Homo sapiens: one gene and its partners. The protein of the gene in region 3 purifies or fractionates together with the protein of the main gene of each other region. This does not show direct contact. Each region holds a gene or a part of one and is shown on either strand. Other genes may lie near its edges.

Region 1 (7,107 bases), on a different chromosome or scaffold from region 3:
AAAGCACAAAAACCATTTTGTAATCTCCTTAAAGAGATACACTAGGCTATTCCTTTTCAAATAATTATGAATCTGTCATTTATTGCAGATAACTTCTTAGGCATTAAATATAAAGGAGGGAGCATGCTATAGCCCAAATAGGAAACATTTCATCAAACAGCAGCACTAAATACCCTACAACACGAAGAAGTAAGACAGGCAGCATCTTTCCAATCTGCCTGTGAAATCTGTCATTAGGCTCTTAGAAAACACAGTACAAACAATGGTAATGTTACTAAAATAACTATCACACAGTAAACAAGTAACACTCAGAAGGACCTAACCACACGCCAATCGCCTTTCCTCCTTACACTGTACACTTAAGAAAATACATTTTATAATATATATATTTTTTACCACAATAAAAGAAAAATGAGGGGGGAGTCACCTGGCTGGTGTAAGGGAGTCTGAGAGAGGAGGTTACTCCTGTTTCTATTTTCCTAAAACTTTGCATAATAATGTCAATTGTGATTTGCACATAAAATTTGGCGATTCTATTATTTACACTTAAAATTATTTATAGTGTCATCACAGACCCGTACCTCAAAGTCTTATTTTTAGCCACCAAGAGAGCTACAAAATTATTTTCTTTTTTTTTTTTGAGACAGAGTCTCGCTCTGTCACCCAGGCTGAGTGCAGTGGCGCGATCTCGGCTCACTGCAAGCTCTGCCTCCAAGGTTCAAGTGATTCTCATGCCTCAGCCTCCCGAGTAGCTGGGATGACAGGCATGCACCACCACACCCAGCTAGTTTTTTGTAATTTTAGTAGAGACAGGGTTTTGCCATGTTGCCTAGGCTGGTCTCGAACTCCTGGCCTCAGGTGATCCACCCACCTTGGCCTCCCAAAGTGCCAGGATTACAGGTGTGTGAGCCACTGCGCCTAGCCACAAAATTATTTTCTGAACATTTTAATATTCTAATAATAATATTAACAATGACTAAAGCTGAGTACTTACTATCTGCCAGGCACCATTCTTAAGTCCTTACAATAATCCTATGAGGAAGGAATTAATATTATCTGTGATGAAAGATAAAGAAAGTGGGAATTGAACCCAGGCATTTTGATTAAAAGGCACATACTATCAAACATTAAATCCACCATATATACATATGTATATTTTCTTACTCTCTATCATCATAACCAGTATCTGAACAATGGAATAAAAATAACAACCCCCATCAACAAAGTGCTATACCATGCCAAGCTCTTTGCATATTTTAACTCTAGTCCTCGTAATAGCTCTATACATTAACTATTATCATTGTCATTGTCATTGTCCAATGACAAGGATATCACTGTCAAGGATACTGGGCCCAGCTAAATTAAGTGACTTGTCCAAAGCCTCACAGCTGTTGTGTGGCAGAATCAGGATTTAAATTAAGGCATGTTTGTCTGCAGGCTGCCTTCCCCTTTCTTACTTATGAAAAGAAAAAGAAAAAAAAAAAAAGACCAAATGTTCTTATTTGGGTTTGGGAAAAGCAGATGGGAAAGTATAAGAAATTCGTGGGAATAAAAGAATGAACTGCAAGAGCTGAGCACCCAGGAGTTAAGCTAGCCCTGCCTGCGGAGTGCACTGTTTGCAGGGCCTTCCTGCTGGATTCCTGATGGTAGCAAATTCCAGGGCTCCAGACTGCAGGCTCAGCCTCTGACTAACACTGCAGTGATTTATTTGAGGATAAATACCTCTGTCAGTGTCTTATGACTGAACACAACAGTCCAAGCTGACTGGAACGAGCGGAATGCGAGGACGCTGGAGCTGAGGCAGTAGAGGCGGGAGCTGGGCCACCTCTCTGCGGAAACTCTGCCTCCAAGGAGGAGCCCTCACAGGAAGGTATTCCTGTGGGGAAAAAGCAGTGCCCTCAGGAATTGGAGCATCTTGAATAATGAGGAAACACTGACTCATGCTAGAGTGAGCGCTTGGGAAGGGGGAAGGAGGAGGACCTCTGTACCTGCACACACAAAGCTACTCCCTCCAATACTCAGTGCAACCTTGCCAGGATTGGCAAGATAACTCCAAGAACACCAACCGCCCTCACCACTGTACCCGTAGACTCTCTGGGCAGCTGGTGGGGCGTCTCCAAGTCCTGAAAACTGGGGAGAAGCCTCTCCCTCTGCGAGGAGGGTGTGTGCCGAGAGGAGAGTGCAAAGGGGAGAAGCCGGGTGCACGGAAGCGGGAGGCTTTTCCAGTGGAAACATGGTGACGTTGCACAGATTCAGGGATCTGTGGTTTCAGCCCGTGTTTCACAAATAACAAAACTGAGGCCCAAAGAGTTGAAGCAATTCATGTCAAGAAGGTAGACAGTGTCAGTGGCAGATCAAGGACTGGCTGGATGTGGTGAGTGGCACCTTGTCATGAGCATAGGAAGCTGGCTTCCCTTTATGGGAAGGTCCCAAGTTTGTACCAGGGGCACATAAGGTGGGATGAACACTTCTTCGTGTGTACAATCCTAGACTCCTGAGTAAGAACTTTACAGACGTCTGCTTGGTCAAAAAGGTGCTGAGCTTCCCTTCTATTTGTCTGGTGCACAGTGACATTCACTAAATGTTGATTCTCCTAAAAACAATCAATATGTATGGGCAAAAAAAAGCGAAGCTTAGCAGATGACTACTCGACTGCTCGCAGAAGCTCTAAGGGGACATTAACTTCTATGGAGTTTAACATGCGGAAGGTCCTACAAGTAGGCTGGAGGGAAGCCAGACTTCCACCTCACCGCGAGTTATCAAAATGAGTTTACTACCTTCTTTTTGGCAGATGAATACTATTTTTCTTTTGTAAATAATATCCTTTTCAAATAAAGTATGCAAATGATAACATCAGAATTAGCACAAAGTTGCAAAACAAATAAGGCCCCAGCACGGAGCACCCTTAAGCCAAAATAAGAACAGAGGAACTCACAGATGGGGGTTGAAGATGCGACTCATTTTGGAGACGTGGTCGTTGTCACAGTCTAGGTCCTCGTCACCTGGCTCCATGCTGAACTTCCTCTTGCTGGGGCTGATTGGGGGAGGGCCGGTGCGGTGACTGCTGAGGGCAGAGGCCACCGGCAGGGTCTGTATTCTGGGTTCTCCCCTGAGAGCAGCTTCGCCTACGCAGAGAGAGATGATGTAGTCACTAAGCAGGAGAAAGGCCCCCATCTCAGTCCCCCAGGCTCCCCGCCCGCCCAGCCAGCCCCTTACAAAACTACTCCCAGTGGAAAGTTTTTGGCAATGGGACGGGGCCGCCTGCCATCCTCTGAACATGGTTTGAGTGTGGTTAGCTGCCAACCATGAGACATTTTACATCAACGTGGTTTTCTAGCACAGTCACTCTTTAGGGTAGAGTTTAAAATAAAAAGTTGCAATAAAATAGCAGGGGGGAGGCAAAAAGCATTTTCTGTAAACAATTTCAAAAGTTAATTTAAAACACCAAAGGTCTTTTCACGTGTGGGTATTCCACTCGATACAGATAGGAGAATGACCTCACTGCATTCATGAAACCACTATGCCCAACTCACTTTTCCTGCTTGTTCTGTTTTTTTTTTCTAATATAGTCTTGGTATTTAATTTCTTTTAAAAGAATGAGGAAAGTGTGTGGGCTAACAGTTCACACATTTGTACCGAAAGTTAAAAGAAATATAAATACATCGTTTAATGGGAAATAAATGTTTAATTCTTACAGTACGCTAAATATTGCACATTAAAATATTATCAGCACAAAGCTTCGGCATATAACTTATCGCAAGCATAATACGTGGGTAGGTGCAGTTCTGAAACATGTTTCGAAGTTAGGCAATCAAATTAGGGTCCACATTTCCATTTGATTTGACATCTTGGCGTTTTTCATTATTATTTTAAAAGGTTTTGTACTAGGCAATCACTTTGTGCCTCGCTGTGAATTAAAATAAGCATAGCCTTTCATAGTAATAAAGCTTGTGTACCTTCTAAACTTTATAAAGACGAATGATTACTTTAAGAGAAAACTTCAAACTTTCTAAGTCACATGGGGGGAGCACCTAAATTTTTCACAAATAATAACCCTTTTGTTGTGCTGTACATTTTGGTCTCTCGGACCTGACCAATTTTCTTTCCATTTGGTCACAATTTGAGAGTAATACGAGGATAAAGTCAACTTCATCCGAGGCCTTGTGGTACCTAAGAAAAGGAATCTTTGTTTGCCACCACTAATTTTCATATCATCACAGATGTGTGGACAGTGTTAACAGTCATTTACTTCATACACATATGACAAATATGATTTTGTTGGAGAAAGGAGTGAGGAAAAACCCTCTGAATATTTACCAGGAAAAATAAAAACTTGGCCAATTTACTCAGCAAGATATAAACTAGCAAATATACAGTGACCCATAATACACCTCCAGCCAGGATTTCTTTTAAGGATTCTGGCCCCAAAGCAAACTGGAACTTTCCATTTTAAATGAGATACCTAAAACACAGGCCTCACGCTGGCCTGCCACACTCAGAAATTCAGTATGATCTTGGTTGGCCTATACTCCCTATTTAGTAATTTTCATTTTAAAAAACAAAAAAAGCAGTGCTCATCTTTATACCTTCATAAATTAGAAAAATATCCTTTCTAATTATCTCCGTTATTTGTGATACTTCCTCCTCCACAAAGAGAGAAGAGGGTGTTTCCAAGGGAAAGCTTCAGAAGCCCAAGCCCAGCTAACTTTCTGGGAAGCCCTGATGATACCCCCAGGAACGCAGCAACTGCAAATCAAACCTCATCAAAATGGCACCAGCTGACCCTCCTCTCCACCCAGGGTTTCTCAACACCCCTGGCAGGATGCGAGGGGATGAGGAGTCCTCGGGCTTGGACCCCCGAACTGTGGTCATCATTTCATCAGATGCCAGCTGTGTAGCAACAAGAGTTGCTATGGAAAACAACCACTACAGCAACAGACTGAAATCACTCCAAAAAAGGAGCCGTCACTCATTCCACCAGCATACACTGTGACGCGGAAAGCAAAACCCTTGGGTTAAGAACAACATTCCCACTCCCCTCCCCAGTTTCCATCCTAGTAAAAATTCTCGTGCTTGTTTGCATTTTTAAGTTCATCCAACGGATGCAGTGCTTATCTTTAAGACTGAATCACTGATGTCTAACATCGAAAAAAATTCCACAAGAATCCTCAGAAAACACTGGAGATTTCTAACCCACGGGTGGGGGTGGGACCAGGGCTGGGGCTACAGGCCCCATGAAGGCACTCCAGGTGTCCTTCACCAGGGACTGTGACAGACGCCTCCACCAGGTCCCGGGGAGACGGTGGTAAATGCGTGCTGTAGTACTTCAGCATCTCAGCTTGCCGGCGCCGGAAGGAGCCCAGGAAGCACGGTTTGCCTCATTTGATGGATGACGAAGCTGTGCCCCAAAACATAGCGTGACTTACCCAAGATCCTCCAGTTAACAGGTTAGCTGGAGGCAAGAACCCATGGCCTCTGCAATCAGACAACGCCTCATCCTAAGACTGTGCAGCCTCACACAAGGCTTACAGCAAAGGAAAAGAATCCGCACATAAGGTCAGGGACAGGTCCGTTCAGTTATGTGCCTTTATGCATCTTTGGGGCCCCTCCCTAGATGGCCTTAACCCAACACTTGTATGTTAGACAAGAGTGGTAACTGTTGTATGTGTGGTGGGGTTAAAATTATTTTTGTAAAACTGAAGCAGACATTTGTTCTGGGAGATAAGACACTTGCATTGCAATCTTGACTCCTCCTTTATTTAGGATGGGGTGAATTTGGGCACGTGCTTCCCCTCTCTGGGCCTCCCTCCATACAACAAGGGGCTGGACTAGCTAATGTGTCATGTTCTTTCCAGCTCTTAGAATTACTGATGCAATTCTATGATCAACAAGTGACCAACCAACTAACCAACATTTACAAAGAAATTGCTACTTGTGTAATGGTGAACTAAGACAGCAAAACTCAAGGTATGTACCTCAGATGTTATTCATCGAAAAAAACAAGGGTGACCCTGGGGTCAAATAAATTTGGAAACCGTGAGATTGAACAACTTTTACAGGAGTTTAACTACAGGCCTTTCTGTCTTCTAATGCATCTCAGTCTCTGAGATGGAAACCCCGCAGGGCTGCTTTCCATCGCCCGCCACGCCCCCGCCCACCCCCAATCCTCCACAGCTCTGTGAATTCCATCTTCCAAAGCGCCCCCACGCCCACCCCCCACCCCCAATCCTCCACAGCTCTGTGAATTCCATCTTCCAAAGCGCCCCACGCCCCCGCCCACCCCCAATCCTCCACAGCTCTGTGAATTCCATCTTCCAAAGCGCCCCCACGCCCACCCCCCACCCCCAATCCTCCACAGCTCTGTGAATTCCATCTTCCAAAGCGCCCCCACGCCCACCCCCCACCCCCAATCCTCCACAGCTCTGTGAATTCCATCTTCCAAAGCGCCATTCTCAGCATGTTGGCCCATCCTCACCCCAGATATCCAGTGACTGCAGACTTCTTCTGCATTCGAAACCCCAACTGCCTTTCTCATTTTTATTCCTAGTATTCCTCTTTATGAGCCCTGAAAATTTCAGCCCAGTAAGTTAAACTAGACTCATCACCATTCCACAGAGAACTTGTTCTTCCCCCAATCTTCTCATTTAAGTTCATACATCCTGCAAAACCACTTAAAATGCCTCCTCCATCAGGCTGTCCTCCTTGATTCCTCCAGCTGAAGGTCATCTCCTCTTCCTCTGAACATCTATAGAAACTTATCACTCTGGTGCTTCCCTCCCTACTTTATTTTGTGCTCCTGGAAGCAGGTGGCATTTAATTCATTTAATAAACCTGACAGTGCAGAGCACAACTGACCTACTGAATCAATGAGGCAAGGTGACAGGGTGGGCAGTTTACAGAGCTTTAGGATATGTTAAAGATCAAAGATGTTATAGAATAAGGAGTGTTTAAAGATCTATTTAAAAATATAAGAACTCTTACAACAATTAAAAAGATAACAAAAAATAGAAAAGGATCTAAATAGGCATTTCCGAAGAGAAGATATGAAAATAGCCAATAAGCACATGGAAAGATGTTGTATTAGTCTGTTCTCACGTTGCTGATAAA
Region 2 (7,012 bases), on a different chromosome or scaffold from region 3:
AGCAGCAGCTGCATGCCTCTAACCGGCCAGCCTTGGCCGCTAAGTTTCCTGTGCTCGCTCAGAGCTCTGGAACAGGGAAACCCTTGGAATCCTGGATCAACAAGACACCCAACACAGAACAGCAGACTCCTCTTTTCCAGGTAAATATGTACCAGGGGCAAAATAAAACAGCCTGGGCAGCATAGCAAGATCCTGTCCCTAAAAAAAAAAAAAAAGTAGCCAGGCTTGGTGTCACACGCCTATAGCACCAGCTACTGAGGAGGCTGAGGTGGGAGGATCCCTTGAGCTCAAGAGGCGGAGGTTACAGTGAACCATGATCGTGCCACTGCACTCCAGCCTGGGTGACAGAGCGAGACCCTGTCTGTTAAGAAAAAAAAAGACAGACAAAGAAAAAGGTATTACTATAATGCAGTGAAATGTAGAGTCCACTTCCATGCTCTAGGGACCAATGTGTCACGTACATTTCTGTTTGGAGCAGGGTGCACCTCCGTGCATCTTGATTGCCTGAACTTTCTACCTGGAAGGAGAATCTTCACTTTGGTTAACAATCTGAGAACTTCCCCCAACCTTTTTGAGAGCATTACTTGTAGAGTTAAATCTTCGTTATATTAGGAGGTCTGAAGACCAACACAGACATGGGAGAAAACCGTAATTTTTGACTGTAGGAACTTAGTATGGTCTGCCTTGAAATCAATCTGGAATGCCAAGCAACTGACCTCCTCTTGTTTTTCAGTCCACAGTAAATTATTCACTTATTTAGTAAATATTTTTGAGCACTTACTACATGTCAGGCATTGTCTACATGTGGGTACATAATGATGAAGAAAACAGACTCCTTACCCACAGCCCATGCTGTAGGTTCTTGAAATAAACAAAAAACAGCCTATTTCCTCCTGAAAGGTGCAGCCAGTTTTTATCTTTCTCTGTATCGTCAGTATAGCCTACTGTAGATCAGGAGAGGTATGCATGCCACCCACCTCCACCCCCCACACAAACTGCCAGAGAGGGAAAATATGACAGTTTTTAGAAAGATTCTCTCCTTTAGAGAAGATGCTTTTCCATGTCCATCACTGACTTGGGACAGTGAGGAAACCACAAGCTATTGATCATCTGCCTGTGGGTAACATCTGGAGATCTGACATTGAATTGTTTTCCCTTTGGATTGGAACACATTCATTGAAAGTACATTGGGTTTAAAAATTGGAAAGTTCTCCCTGTGTATCACATATATCATCACTGGCCCTTTGTCATGTTTTGTTATGTACCTTTTTTTGTTTTTTGAGACAGAGTTTCACTCTTGTCGCCCAGGCTGGAGTACAATGGTGCGATCTCGGCTCACTGCAACCTCCACCTCCCGGGTTCAGGCGATTCTGCTGCCTCAGCCTCCTGAGTAGCAGGGATTACAGGCACCTGCCACCACACCTGGCTAATTTTTTGTATTTTTTTAGTAGAGACGAGGTGTCACGATGTTGGCCTGGCTGGTCTCGAACTTCTGACCTCAGGTGATCCACCCACCTCGGGCTCTCAGAGTGCTGGGATTACAGTCGTGAGCCACTGCACCTGGCCTGTTATGTAACTTATAACAGTTTCTCAAAAATCTTGAACTTTTGGCTGGGCATGGTGACTCGTGCCTGTAATCCCAGCACTTTGGAGGTTAAGATAGGAGAATCGCTTGAACCTAGGAGTTTCAGACCAGCCTGGGCAACATAGACCCTGTCTCTACAAGAATTTTTTGTTTTTAATTAGCCGGGTATGGTGGCATGCCACTGTGGTCCCAGCTACTTGGGAGGCTGAAGTGGGAAGATTGCTTGAGCCCAAGAAGTTGAGGCTGCAGTCAGCCATGTTTGCACCACTGCACTCCAGCCTGGGCAGTAGAGTGAGACCTTGTCTCAAAACAAAAAATTCAGTTTTTTGAAAACAAAGACCTTAGGCATGTGCCAAAAGTCTTTGTGAGCCCCTGAGTCAAAGTGTTCTCATTTATTATTTATTAACATCCCAAATCTGAGTACCGACTGCTATAGAAACAATATTTATAACTCCCACTCCCCCTCATTTCAGTGTTATTGTCCCTTTTTTAAAAATGTCTGCTTTTTTCCTCTTTGATGATTTAGAATTAGAAGCATGCGATGAATATAGTCTGACTTAAATTTCTGATGTACAACTCCCTTGACTTTTCAGTACTCACAAATATCAAGAGCCGAGTGAGAAAGGCAAGCATTTCAGCAGCCCACGCTGTGCTCAGAATGCTTGACTCCACCTCCGGGAGCATCACTGCTCAGCACCGCTCCTCGAAATGTCATGTAGGGACAAGTTAAAAGAAACAGCCTGCCTTCCTCTAGGCCAACTTTTGCTCAAAGAGACGCTAAGGGATTGATTATAAAATTACAGCAACTTCTAGCTTGCTGGCCTCCTTGCCTCCCTCTTAGGAGTTCTTTCGGGGAGTTCGGAGGCTGATAAATAACATTCTTTTTCTTCCCTGAGTTAGAAGCAAATGATAGCTGTAGGAGTCAGTCAGATAAGGATCAAAATGTCACTTGCATAACTGAAAGGGCTGTTAGAAAACTTGGTTTCAGGTCTGTTTGCCAAGGGAGTTAGACTCAGCAGACAGGCTCTGGCAGGGCTGAGCAACAGGCCGCCCGGGTCAGCCCAAACACATCAGCTGCGGAAGCTGAAGATGAGGGCTCTCTGCAGGCAGGCAGATCCTGTCAGGGAAGGACCCAGAAGGGGTGGACCCACACATCACTCTCCCTCCCCACGAGAAGTGAGTGAGGCCGCAGGAGGGGCGGGGAGTTGCTCTCACAGCGCCTCCTGTGCTCCGGGGTCAGGAGGGGAAATGGGGAGGCCCCTAACAAGGGTGGCAGCTCACATAGGTTGTGAGACCTTTAGGTCAGGGTCATGGACAACCAGGTCTAAGGAAAAGGTCAGTAGTCCTAAATGCACTTGCCAAATACTGGTAGCCTGAAAAATAAGCTGTCACCCAGAGGCCAAGCTGCATATGCAGTGGAAAGAATAGTCCCCACAGCAGACGATACCAGAGCTGCTCAGTGATGCTGAAGGAAGGTGCATGGAGCAGTGGAGCAAGAATCAGTTTCCCATAAACTTTTCTCAGCTAGGAAAGCTGTGGACAGGGAATGCTTAGACCACCCGTATCTGCCGCTGCAAGCTATCATGCCGTGAGCTGCTCCTGAACCCCGCTCTCTGTGTGTATTTGCTGTGAGCAGGTCATCTCACCTCAGCGCATCCCTGCTACAGCAGCTCCGTCTCTGCTTATGTCCCCCATGGTGTTCGCACAACCCACCTCCGTCCCGCCAAAGGAAAGGGAGAGCGGCCTCTTGCCTGTGGGAGGCCAGGAGCCACCTGCTGCTGCCACCAGCCTCCTCCTGCCCATACAGAGCCCGGAGCCCTCCGTGATCACCAGCAGCCCACTCACCAAGCTCCAGCTCCAGGAGGCACTGCTGTACCTCATTCAGGTAAGCAAGCACGTCATCTCCCTTCGCACCTGACCACGCCTGTTGGCCTCCTGGCTGCAACTATGAGATAAAGACTCAGCCAAGGCCTGCTTAGCTTCCGTGAGAATAACAGGTGTGTGTAACAACTCATCCTGACCCCAGCGGCTTCTGTGCTCAGTTAGCTAGGTGTTATTTATAATACCAAGTGTGGCTTGGGTGTCTCAGCTCTTCAAGGATTTTGTAATTTGAAGGACTGTCTAAGGCCTCCAAGCTGTCACCTGTCAGAAGAGAAGGAAGCATATGCTGGGGATTAAGCAGTCCCTGAGAGGACCCTGGGTGCTGGAGGCCCAGACAGAAAACTCACCATTGGGAGGTAGAGGTGGGAGCAGTCCTGGGCAAGGGGCCATCTGTTGAGTGGGGAAGAGGCCACTGAGCGAGTGGAAAACAGGGAGGGAAGCAAATAATGGCCATGGCTGCTACAGGTATGTTTTACAAGTCATTTTGAAACCTGCTCATTAGGACGGGATGGAGTGACAGGACTCCTTGTGAGCTGCTAGCCTCACTTGCCTATGAAATTATGAAATAATAATGAGTGCTATAATAGCTAACACTCCACAGAGCTGGCGCCGGGCCCTATTTTCAGTGCTACACACAAGCATATAACTCATTCACTCCTTACATAACAACCCTGTTATTTTTCCCATTCTACAGACAAGGAAACTGAGGCTGAGCAACTGGCCTGAGGCACGGAGCTCGTACATAAGCAGGGCTGGGATGCACCCAGCCTGGCCCCCGAGTGCCACTTCCCACGTACTCTCCCGTGGGCCACGTTCACCACATGAATGTTGGCAGGGACCAGCCTCGGGAGAACATTCAGCACAGGTGCCCTAGCAAAGCACACCCAAGAAATCAACGGCAGTCCTTGAAAAGTGGAACATTTGTAGCCAGACAGACTTCAGACACCCCAGTTAACATATTTAGGTGTCTTTTTGGTAGATAATCTTTAAGAAAACTTGTGTGGTACTTTGCTTAAGCATCAGACGGCCTTTAGAGAGCAGGCCAGCCCTTCTGCGGTTGTCTTATCCTACTTAAAAAGACAGTGGTCTCAATTAGTACAACATTTTTAAAAAGGTTCCATGTTGGCCGGGCACAGTGGCTGCTCACGCCTGTAATCCCAGCACTTTGGGAAGCCAAGGTGGGAGCATTGCTTGAGGCCAGGAGTTCAAGACCAGCCTGAGCAACATAGCGAGACTACAAAAGAAGGAAACATGTTTGAGGAAGAATGAAAGGAATGGGGCTAGAAGTCAGCAGAAGCATAATAACAATCAGAGATAAATAAGGTCAACAGCAAATGATTGAGCCCTACTAATTCATAAGTAAATATCAGGATAAAAATATTTGCCACCTTTTAAAGCTATTCATAGTAAGCTCAGGAGGAATTAGACATCTGTGAACCTCTTTACTTTGAGCCAGTTTCTTAAGTTGTAATTTAAAAGATCCATATGTTTTCTGGCTGATTCCCTTCACATTGTCTTGAGACTCTACTCCAGAGTAGTGGCTGAACATGGCGGATTAGAAATTACATTCCCCTGCCCTCCACTCTGCGTGCATTTTACTTCTTCCCGTGTACCACACCTCATATTCCCAGTCACTCAAGCAGTCTGTTTTTAGTTTCTGCCTCTTGTTAGGACACAATCTCATGCAGAGGAACTTTGTGACTACTTTGCAGGAAAAAGAGGGATAACATCACTCTCTTCATTGCATGAGAATGATGCTAAATCTGTGTGGGGTGCCAAGAGGGAATGAAGGGGGAATGTGAAGTGTGGGTGAATTACTAACACTGTAAAGAATTTGGGTGGGAGGGAGAAGTCTCTAGAATTAAAACATGAGGAAAACCACTGATTAGACCGTGATTCTCACTCCTTAGCCAGGCAAAAGAGCCCAGAGATTACCAGTCTTACTCCTGCCCACTTGCCAAGGCTAGAAACTTTCCATAACTTATGGGAAGACTTATATTAGCTTTGATGAAGTACTGATGAAGCATATTGCAAGTAAAATCCTAAGTAATGCCCAAAACAAAGCAGACACATTGTAGGTGACTTGGAGGGCCTTTAAGAACCACAGTGGCTCATGCCTGTAATCCAACACTTGGGGAGGCCAAAGTGGGAGGCTCACTTGAGCCCAGGAGTTCAAGACCACCCTGAGCAACATAGTGAGACCCTGTCTTAACAAAAAACTTAAAAGCCAGGCATGGTAGCACGCACCTGTAGCCCTAGCTACTCTGGAGGCTGAGGTGGGAGGATCGCTTGAACCCATGAGGTTGAGGCTGCAGTGAGCTATGATGGCACTACTGCACTTTAGCTTGGGTGACAGAGTGAGACCCAGTCTCAAAAACCCAAAAAACAAGAAACAAAAAAACACACCACAGCAATCTCTTAACCAAACTTTGAGACCACTGACTTGGATCATGTCCTCCTAACTCCTCTGTCTGCTGGGGCTTCATGTCTTTTCATGCAGCAGACCCAGGCTGTTCTTGAGTAAACCTTGCTCCATGCTGCCATGTGTCTGGGCTGCCCATCTGTGCTGCATGTAATGAGCTCTTGCTGCTGTGCATACTGACCATGGAAAACCATCAGCTCTGTCCGGCCTTGCCGTCAACCCCACTTAACATTCACACATGCAATTAAAAACCACCAGCTGTTAGACAGGGAGAGATGAGTGTCTCAGTATCCAAAGGCCAGTTCAGCTCTAAGACAGAGGAAGCCTTTTGTGTCTGCCAACCAAGTAACATTCTCTTGGGTCTTTCGATTTGTTTTCCAGAATGATGACAACTTCTTAAATATAATCTATGAAGCCTATCTCTTCAGCATGACTCAAGCAGCCATGAAAAAGACTATGTGACAGCAAGGCCTTTTAAAACTGATTTTCAAGGTCCTTCTAGAACTCCGGCACAAGGTTCTTTCATGTTGAGTGTTGTTTCCTTCAATGTTTCTGCCTTTTTTAAAAAAAAAGTATGTGTAATATGAAGTAAAATGTTTCAGACTTTTTTTTATACTCAAGTGTTTTTTAATTATTATTATACTTTAAGTTCTGGGGTACATGTACAGAACATGCAGGTTTGTTACATAGGTATACACATGCCATGGTGGTTTGCTGCACCCATCAACCCATCATCTACATTAGTATTTCTCCTAACGCGCTTCCTCCCCTAGTCCCCCACCCCGCGACAGACCCCAGTGTGTGATGTTCCCCTCCCTATGTCCGTGTGTTCTCATTGTTCAATTCCCACCTGTGAGTGAGAACATGTGGTGTTTGGTTTTCTGTTACTTTGTTAGTTTGCTGAGAATGATGGTTTCCAGCTTCATCCATGCCCCTGCAAAGGACAAGAACTCATTCTTTTTTATGGCTGCATAGTATTCCCTGGGTGTATATATGCCGTATTTTCTTTATCCAGTCTATCATTAATGGACATTTGGGTTGGTTCCAAGTCTTTGCTATTGTGAATAGTGCTGCAATAAACATACGTGTGCATGTGTCTTGATAGTGGAATGATAATCCTTTGA
Region 3 (7,231 bases):
GGTGAGGAATCCAGCTGGGGCTTCCCAAACGTCCGCCTCTGGGGCACCGCCAGAGGCAAGAAGTAGCCAAGTTGTTTCTAGGCATCCTGTTAGTTTACCCCGTGGAGGTAAATTTCCTCTTTCCTCGGGCAGTCCCTCTAGCAGTCTACCCTAAATTCTCCCTTCTACCCGGCAAGAACCCACTGCCCATGTCTTCTAGGAAGCCTCCCGCTGCCTCTTTCCCCTCCCCACGTAGGCGCTGAGTCCTCCACCTTCCAGGTAGAGATAGGGGATGGGTCAGCTACAGAAGGGTAATCTACTCCCAAGCCTGTCTGTGGCTCCCCTGCAGGAGCCATCCCCTCTCTGAGCCTCAGTACTTTTATCTGGAAAACGGGCCGATGGCTGAAACGTGACCAGTGGGTCGCACTTGTTGAAGGTCGGCCGGCGGGACCGCCTGGGTGCAGGGCGCCACCTGGAGGCTACCGCGCAACGTCCTCGCCCTCGCAGGACCAGTTCAGTCCCAAAGGGGGCGCAGCATCTCACACAACTAAGGGACCAAGAAGGAAAAAAAAAACCCATCTTTCGGTTTATTGAAGGAGCAGAAGGGAGCGGGGGGTGGGGGGGTGGGAATTAAATGCTTTTGCCTCGTTTATAAAGAGCGAGTTTTCAGGAGGTCCCTTCTCAAGGAGGAGGGGGGCACCTCTCCCCCAACTACAAGCAGCAGCAAAGCCAAGCCAAGGAGGACAGAGGGAAACTGGAGGGGCCAAGGGACCCCAAACACCCCCTCGGACAGGAGCCACAAGCTTTCTCCCCCCACCCACAATGCATCTACCCCAGGGGACCCATCTGGGTGGAAGAAGGGAGTATGTACACAGATAGAGGTGGCACTGGGCTGGGTCGGGGAGGGAATAATTTATCCGCGGCAGCGGTGGGTGGCAAAGGGGCAGAGGGCAGTAGCCTGGAGGCAGTGGTAGCCTAGGGGTCCCGTTCTTTCTTAACTTTGATGTCTCCAGCAAGGATGGTGGCGATCTCGCCCTGCATGAAGGCCCAGGGCACGGAGGAGCCGACCAGCGGGCACTTGTCTCCGCTCGGGCAGTACACCTCCCCGGCCGGGCCCTGCGCCTTGATGAACTCCCGGGAGCAGGGAAAGCAGAACTTGTGTCCGGGCACCGAGGGGCACTGGACGAAGTGGGTGTCTTCTAGCCGCTCCCTGCACAGGGTACAGCACAGGGGGGCCCCAGGGGTCGCCCCAGTGCCGCTGCCACCCCCGCTGACAGCTTCGGCCCCCGCTGTGGGACTGACTTCTGCTTCGCCGTTGCGGGCCACAAGGCGATGCTGGGTTGGCGGCTGGGCCGTGGAGGAGGCTGCAGGGCTGGCGCCCCCTGCACGCACAGGCCCCCCGCCTCCGCCAGGGTCCTTGGGTGAGTGGCCCAGGGCTTCGGCCACATTCTTCAGGGCGGCAATGGGCGAGGGCACACCAGGGGTCTCAGCGGAGTACGGGCCGCCGGGTGCCACCCAGTGCCGTTGCTGCTGCTCCTCGGTGGTCATCTTCCCAGCCGCCTCGCCCTCCGGCTCGGGGGATGCCTTGCGACGGCGCGGCGTGGGCGCCAGGTTCCGGGATGGGGCTCGCGGGGGTGGGCCACAGAGAGCCGCAGGGGCCGGCTCTGGGTACTGCTGGGGCAGGGCCTCCGCGGGAGCTGGCTCGCGGAAGCTGCGGACGCCGTCGGTAAGCAGCTCGCCCAGCTGCCGCCATTCTCCTGATCCATGCCGGCGTTCATATTCGAGGTACTTGAAGCCCGAAGAAGCCAGTGCCTTGCCCGGCTCCCGCAGAGCATCGTGGAACATCTGGCGAGCCACTGCCAGGACGCCGGCGTACACATTGCCGGAACCACAGGGGTATTCGGTGAAGAGCTTCAGCTCGAACTCGTATCCTGGAGGACGGGCAGTAGCATCGAAGGCGAACACTCGCCCCACCAGCCCGTGATCCTTCTTGAAGCGCACATTGAACGGGGCGCAGGCGGACAGCGCCAGTAGCTGTTCCCGCACTGCTTTGGGGCGCCCGTGCCATTCCTCTGCCCGGCCTCGCATGGCCTCGTTCAGTTCTGCCAGACAGTCCGCATTCCTCTGCTGCTTCTCTTTCTCGAAATCGGAGCCGAAGAGGGGACGGGCAGGACTCAAGCCGGGTGCCAGCGTCAGGCCTCGGCTTCCCAGGCCAGACACTGCAGCTGCCAGCAGCCCAGGGGGCATCAAGCCAGGCATGGAGCCAAGCAAGGCCCTTCGCGCCCCCTCAGCCACGGCCTCCTCACGGCCCAGCCCATTGGCCAGGCGGGACCCCAGAGTGTACTCCAGGGCGGGCGAGGGCAGGGGGAGGCGGCCTGATGATGTGGCCCTGTCATAGCGGTCCTGGCCCGACACGCCGCCGCCGGTCCCTGACGGCTGGGGCTGGGCCTGCGGGGGCGGCAGCTGGGGCCCCTGTGCGGCTGCCGCCGCCAGGTCCTTGGTGGCCGGGTGCTTAAGGGCCGGGGGCCCGGGCGAGCGGCCCTCGGGGAGCACGTGGCTGCGCTTGAGCTGGCGGGCGGCATCGATGAGCAGTTCGATGCGGTCCGCGCCCTCGAAGTTCACGCAGCCGCGACACACGGCCTCGCTGAAGTCCCACACCATGGCCCACGGCATCTTGGGCAGGTCGCACAGGTAGCACCACTGGCGGCGGGACGCCTGCACAGACGCCATGGCCCCAGTCCGCGCGCCGCCCAGCTCCCGCGTTCCACCGGCCGCCGACGTGCGATCCGCGCCGCCAACGTTCGATCCGCGTCCCGGGGACAGCGCGAGCCACGGTCCGGCCTCCGGCTCGGCCTCCCCGCCGGATCCAGGCCCGGCCCCCCTTCCCCGCCCCCTGGGCCCTAAGCCTTTCTGCTCACTCCCGCCTCCCTCGCGAAGGCAGGCTGAGGCACGTCGGCGCCCCCGCCCGGTCCGGGCTCCGAGCCGAGGCGCACAGCTCGGGCCCCACGATGGGCCGCGAGCGCCGCCGCCTCGGGCTCCCGCCGCTCTCGCCGCCGCCGCTGCAACGGCCGCCGCCGCCTCCACCTCCTTCTTCTGCCCCAGAGGCCGCTTCGCAGGGAAAGTTACATAACACGCCTGCAAAGCCTTCTGGGAAACGTAGTCCCGCCGGGGCCGGCTCTTAAAGGGAACGGCGGGCAGACGCGGGCTGGGGGGGTTGTCGCCTCTGCCGGCGCAAACCTTACAACCTTCTCCGTGGGGCCGGAGTTCAGCGCGCCGCAAGATGCTGGGACACAAAGGTGGTAGGCGAGGATGCAATACAAATGATCAGAGCTACTCCGGATTCAGAAATTGTGGGGGTGGGTGGACAGGCTTCCGGGCTTCCAACTTCTGCTCGGATTTGCTGTGCAGCTTTAGGCAAAATGTCTTGCCCTCTCTGAACCTCAGTTTCCCCGCCCAGCAAAGGTGGGCCAATGACGGATTAGGAAAGTAGCAGCTTCTGGGGCGGGGCGGAGAAGCCCTGATTGGCTTCAGAGCAGGGACGGGAAGCTGGCAACTAGGTGGGGGTGGGGGTGGCCACCTGGCACTTCGTCCTCCCCCCGGAATCCTAGATATATGCTTCTGGGGCCCGCCACAGCCAGAGAAGGGAGAGGACTAAGGGCTTCCGAGCCAGAGCCTTGTCTCAGTTGTTTCTCTGCTAAAAGAGTGGGGCGACTGGCCGCCCTCTAACCCTGTCCCAGCTCTGCCCGCGCGCTCTGGTCTCTAAAGGGTTACACCATCGGGGGCTCGGCGTCCCCCACCCGCTTCACTACAATTCCCAAAATGCACTGCGGGTCGGACATAGTGACGCACTTCCGCCCTCTGGGAGGTTTGGGGAGGCCTTCCAGATTCACGCTACTTTCCCGGCTACCCCCCGCCCCCCCACTTTTCTGGGGGCTCTTTACGTGCATTCGGAGCGTGGCGTTTGGGGGACCCTTATCTTCTGTTGCTCCCCAGTTTGAGGGAAGAGTAAGGGGTTAAGAAGTGACGGGCAAGAGGAGGGAGTTGCTGGGGAAGGGCAAACACCAGACCAACCTTTCCCCAACCTTGAGCGCTCACTACCTGGAAGGCCCAATCAGGCTGTGAGGACCCTTCTTCTTTCCCAGGCATTGGGAACTGGACGAGGCTGTCTTTGGGGAAGGGCGGAGGCGGGTCTCCAGGTTCCAACCCACAACAGCCCCTTTCTCTAGGCCTGGGTCCGTGTTAGGTGCTCAAAAATATTTGAATGACGTACCAGTTGGCCCTGGTTTTGTCTAGTGAGGGGCTGCTTGTCCCTTCTCCTCCCGTCCCACTGGAACCGCAGCAGCTCTGATTCTGTTACCCAGACCTCACAATTTTAAAATGGTTTCACAATTTTGTCTACTACCTGTATTTGAACACTTTTCTCCCTTAAAAAAAAGATTTATCAGGCTGAAGTGGGAGGATTGCTTGAGCCTGGAGATAACAGGCTACAGTGAACCATGATTGCGTCACTGCACTCCAGCCTGGGCAACAGAGCAAGATCCTGTCTCAAAAAAATAAATAAAAATAAAAAGATTTATCTATTTTTGCCTCATCCTAGGTAATACGTTCACAATCATGGGTTTCATGTACTGTGGTTACCTTAAAAAAAATTAGTGAAAACTATCGACTCATTCAAGAGGACATTAATATGTCACTTAAAGTTGCCTTTGGGCTATTATTTACGAAACACTAATGGGAGTTAAGGCTTCTGGCCAGATTCAGCCTTCAGGTGGACTGGATTGGCCTCTGACCAGCTGTGGCCTTGGGCCAGTTTCTAAACTTCTTGGAAAAAATGGAGACCCCCTCCAGTCTCCTTTTATTTGGGTACCTTCAGATTGAATGCAAACATGCATATAAATGCTTAGCTTGGTGCCTGGCACAGAAAATAAGTGCCACAAATGGAAGTTGTTTTTAAGCTGGACAGTTATTCAAATATTCAACCCCTCTTCCATGCTGGGCAATGCTGGGGACATAGCAGTGACTGAGACAGGCTTTAAGCCTTGCCCCTGAGAAGCCCCAGCCTGGTGATGGAGGCAGATAGTAAATTTACTCAAATGATGAACTAAAATTTGTGATGACTGCGGTGGGGAATGTGTGTCAGGAAAAGCTTTCCTGGCCATAGTGGCTCATGCCTGTAATTCCAGCACTTTGGGAGGCCGAGGAGGGCGGATCACTTGAGGTCAGAAGTTTGAGACCAGACTGGCCAACATGGTGAAACCTTGTCTCTACTAAAAATTAAAAAATTAGGGGGCCGGGCGCGGTGGCTCACGCCTGTAATCCCAGCACTTTGGGAGGCCGAGGCAGGCAGATCACAAAGTCAGGAGATTGAGACCATCCTGGCTAACACGGTGAAACCCCGTCTCTACTAAAAATACAAAAAATTAGCCAGGTGTGGTGGTGGGCGCCTGTAGTCCCAGCTACTCGGGAGGCTGAGGCAGGAGAATGGTGTGAACCCGGAAGGTGGAGCTTGCAGTGAGCCAAGATCGAGCCACTGCACTCCAGCCTGGGCGACAGAGTGAGACTCCATCTCAAAAAATAAAAATAAAAAAAAAATAAATAAATAAAATTAGGCCGGACAGTGGCAGTGGCTCACATCTATAATCCCAGTACTTTGGGAGCCCTATCACTTGAGGTCAGGGGTTCGAGATCAGCCTGGCCAACACGGTGAAACCCCCATCTCTACTAAAAAGTACAAAAATTAGCCAGGTGTGGTGGCGCACACCTGTAATCCCAGCTACTCAGGAGGCTGAGGCAGGAGAATTCCATGAACCCAGGAGATGAGTTCACACCACTGCACCTCCAGCCTGGGGGACAGATGCAAGACTCCGTCTCAAAAAAAACCAAAAAACAACAACAAAAAAACAAAAAACTAACTAAATAAGTAAAAATACAAAAATTGGCCAGGTGTAGTGGCACACGCCTGTAGTCCCGGCTACTTGGGAGGCTGAGGCAGAAGAATCACTTGAACCCGAGAGGCAGAAGTTGCAGTGAGCCAAGACCGCGCCACTGCACTCCAGCCTGGGCGACAGAGGGAGACTCTACCTCAAAAAAAGAAAAAAAAAAAAGAAAAGTATAATCTAATTATAGGAAGAAAGACTCTGACATCTTTATGTCCATTCTACAGATGAGGACACTGGAAGCCAATGGTTACACAGTTGGCCAGGGCAGCACCAGTACTTGAGCCACGTCTTGAGTCCAGAGTGGTGGTGATTATCTACTTTGTTACCTGGCCCTGCAGCAGAGTAAAAGAACCAGTTCCTGCCTTCATGACATTATGGGCAAATGTGCCTTAAATAGATAAAGGCCTGTGTTCATTTAGAGTCACTATGAAAAAGAACCCAGCTGTGTGTGGTGGCTCATGCTTGTAATCCTAGCACTTTGGGAGGCCGAGGTGGGAGGACTGCCTGAGCCCATGAGTTCCAGATCAGCCTGGACATCATAGAAAACCCCATCTCTAGAAAAATAAAACAATTAGCTGAGCATGGTGGCACATGCCTGTGGTCCCAGCTACTTGGGAGGCTGAGGCAGAAGGATTGCTTCAGCCTGGGAGATCGAGGCTACAGTGAGTTGTGATCATGCCACTGCACTCCAGCTGGGGCAACAGAACGAGATCCTATCTCAAAAAAACGGAAAGAAAAGAAAAGAAAGGAAAAGAAAAAGAAAAAGAACCACAGGACACTGAAAGAGACTCTAAGAGGCAAACCCACGTTAGCCTTGGGGAAGGAATCTAGGACTTTCTCCTGGAGTTGACATTTAGACTGGTATCTAAAGGAAGAGTAGGAATAAGATTTCATGTAAACACAAGACTTGATGGCTTTAAGAATTAAAAAAAAAAAAAAGCTGGAAAACCACCAGCCTCCCAATTGCCTGCCTGTGGAGGGGGCGGGGCAGGTGTAGGTGCTGGTCCCCCAGGCCTGTCTCAGACAGAGCCTCAAGTAATTGTATTAAAAATAAGTTTATTGATATCTTGTCACCACTGGGAGAAAGGAGGGGGTTGAGCTCTGGAAGTCAGAGACAGCAATGGTAGGCAGAGAACCCAACCTGTACCTCTCCCATCAGAACTCGGCGCCTCCTCTCCCTGGGGTATACACGGCTATATCCTCTTTGTCATCCGTATTTTGATTTGTCTTACAACTCCCACCCGCTCCAAAGTCTGGGTTGGGGAGGTGGGGAGTCCCCCACGGGTCAATTCTCTTCAAGTCAAGAACAGGAA

Evidence for each region.
Region 1: the proteins of IRF2BP1 (region 3) and VGLL4 purify together in Homo sapiens (affinity purification with mass spectrometry; 4 studies listed by BioGRID and IntAct, with this or other methods). This does not show direct contact.
Region 2: the proteins of IRF2BP1 (region 3) and DCP1B purify together in Homo sapiens (affinity purification with mass spectrometry; 2 studies listed by BioGRID and IntAct, with this or other methods). This does not show direct contact.

What each region holds. Positions count from the first base shown.
Region 1 is NC_000003.12:11,598,898-11,606,004, forward strand, and holds part of VGLL4 (transcription cofactor vestigial-like protein 4), read right to left. Parts: intron 5,685-7,107; exon of another isoform or gene 5,427-5,684; intron 3,126-5,426; coding exon 2,936-3,125; intron 1-2,935. UniProt on the Homo sapiens protein: May act as a specific coactivator for the mammalian TEFs.
Region 2 is NC_000012.12:1,945,544-1,952,555, reverse strand, and holds the end of DCP1B (mRNA-decapping enzyme 1B), read left to right. Parts: coding exon 1-140; intron 141-3,221; coding exon 3,222-3,470; intron 3,471-6,269; coding exon 6,270-6,350; 3' UTR 6,351-6,503; downstream 6,504-7,012. UniProt on the Homo sapiens protein: May play a role in the degradation of mRNAs, both in normal mRNA turnover and in nonsense-mediated mRNA decay. May remove the 7-methyl guanine cap structure from mRNA molecules, yielding a 5'-phosphorylated mRNA fragment and 7m-GDP.
Region 3 is NC_000019.10:45,883,066-45,890,296, forward strand, and holds IRF2BP1 (interferon regulatory factor 2-binding protein 1), read right to left. Parts: upstream 3,077-7,231; 5' UTR 2,710-3,076; coding exon 955-2,709; 3' UTR 543-954; downstream 1-542. UniProt on the Homo sapiens protein: Acts as a transcriptional corepressor in a IRF2-dependent manner; this repression is not mediated by histone deacetylase activities. May act as an E3 ligase towards JDP2, enhancing its polyubiquitination. Represses ATF2-dependent transcriptional activation.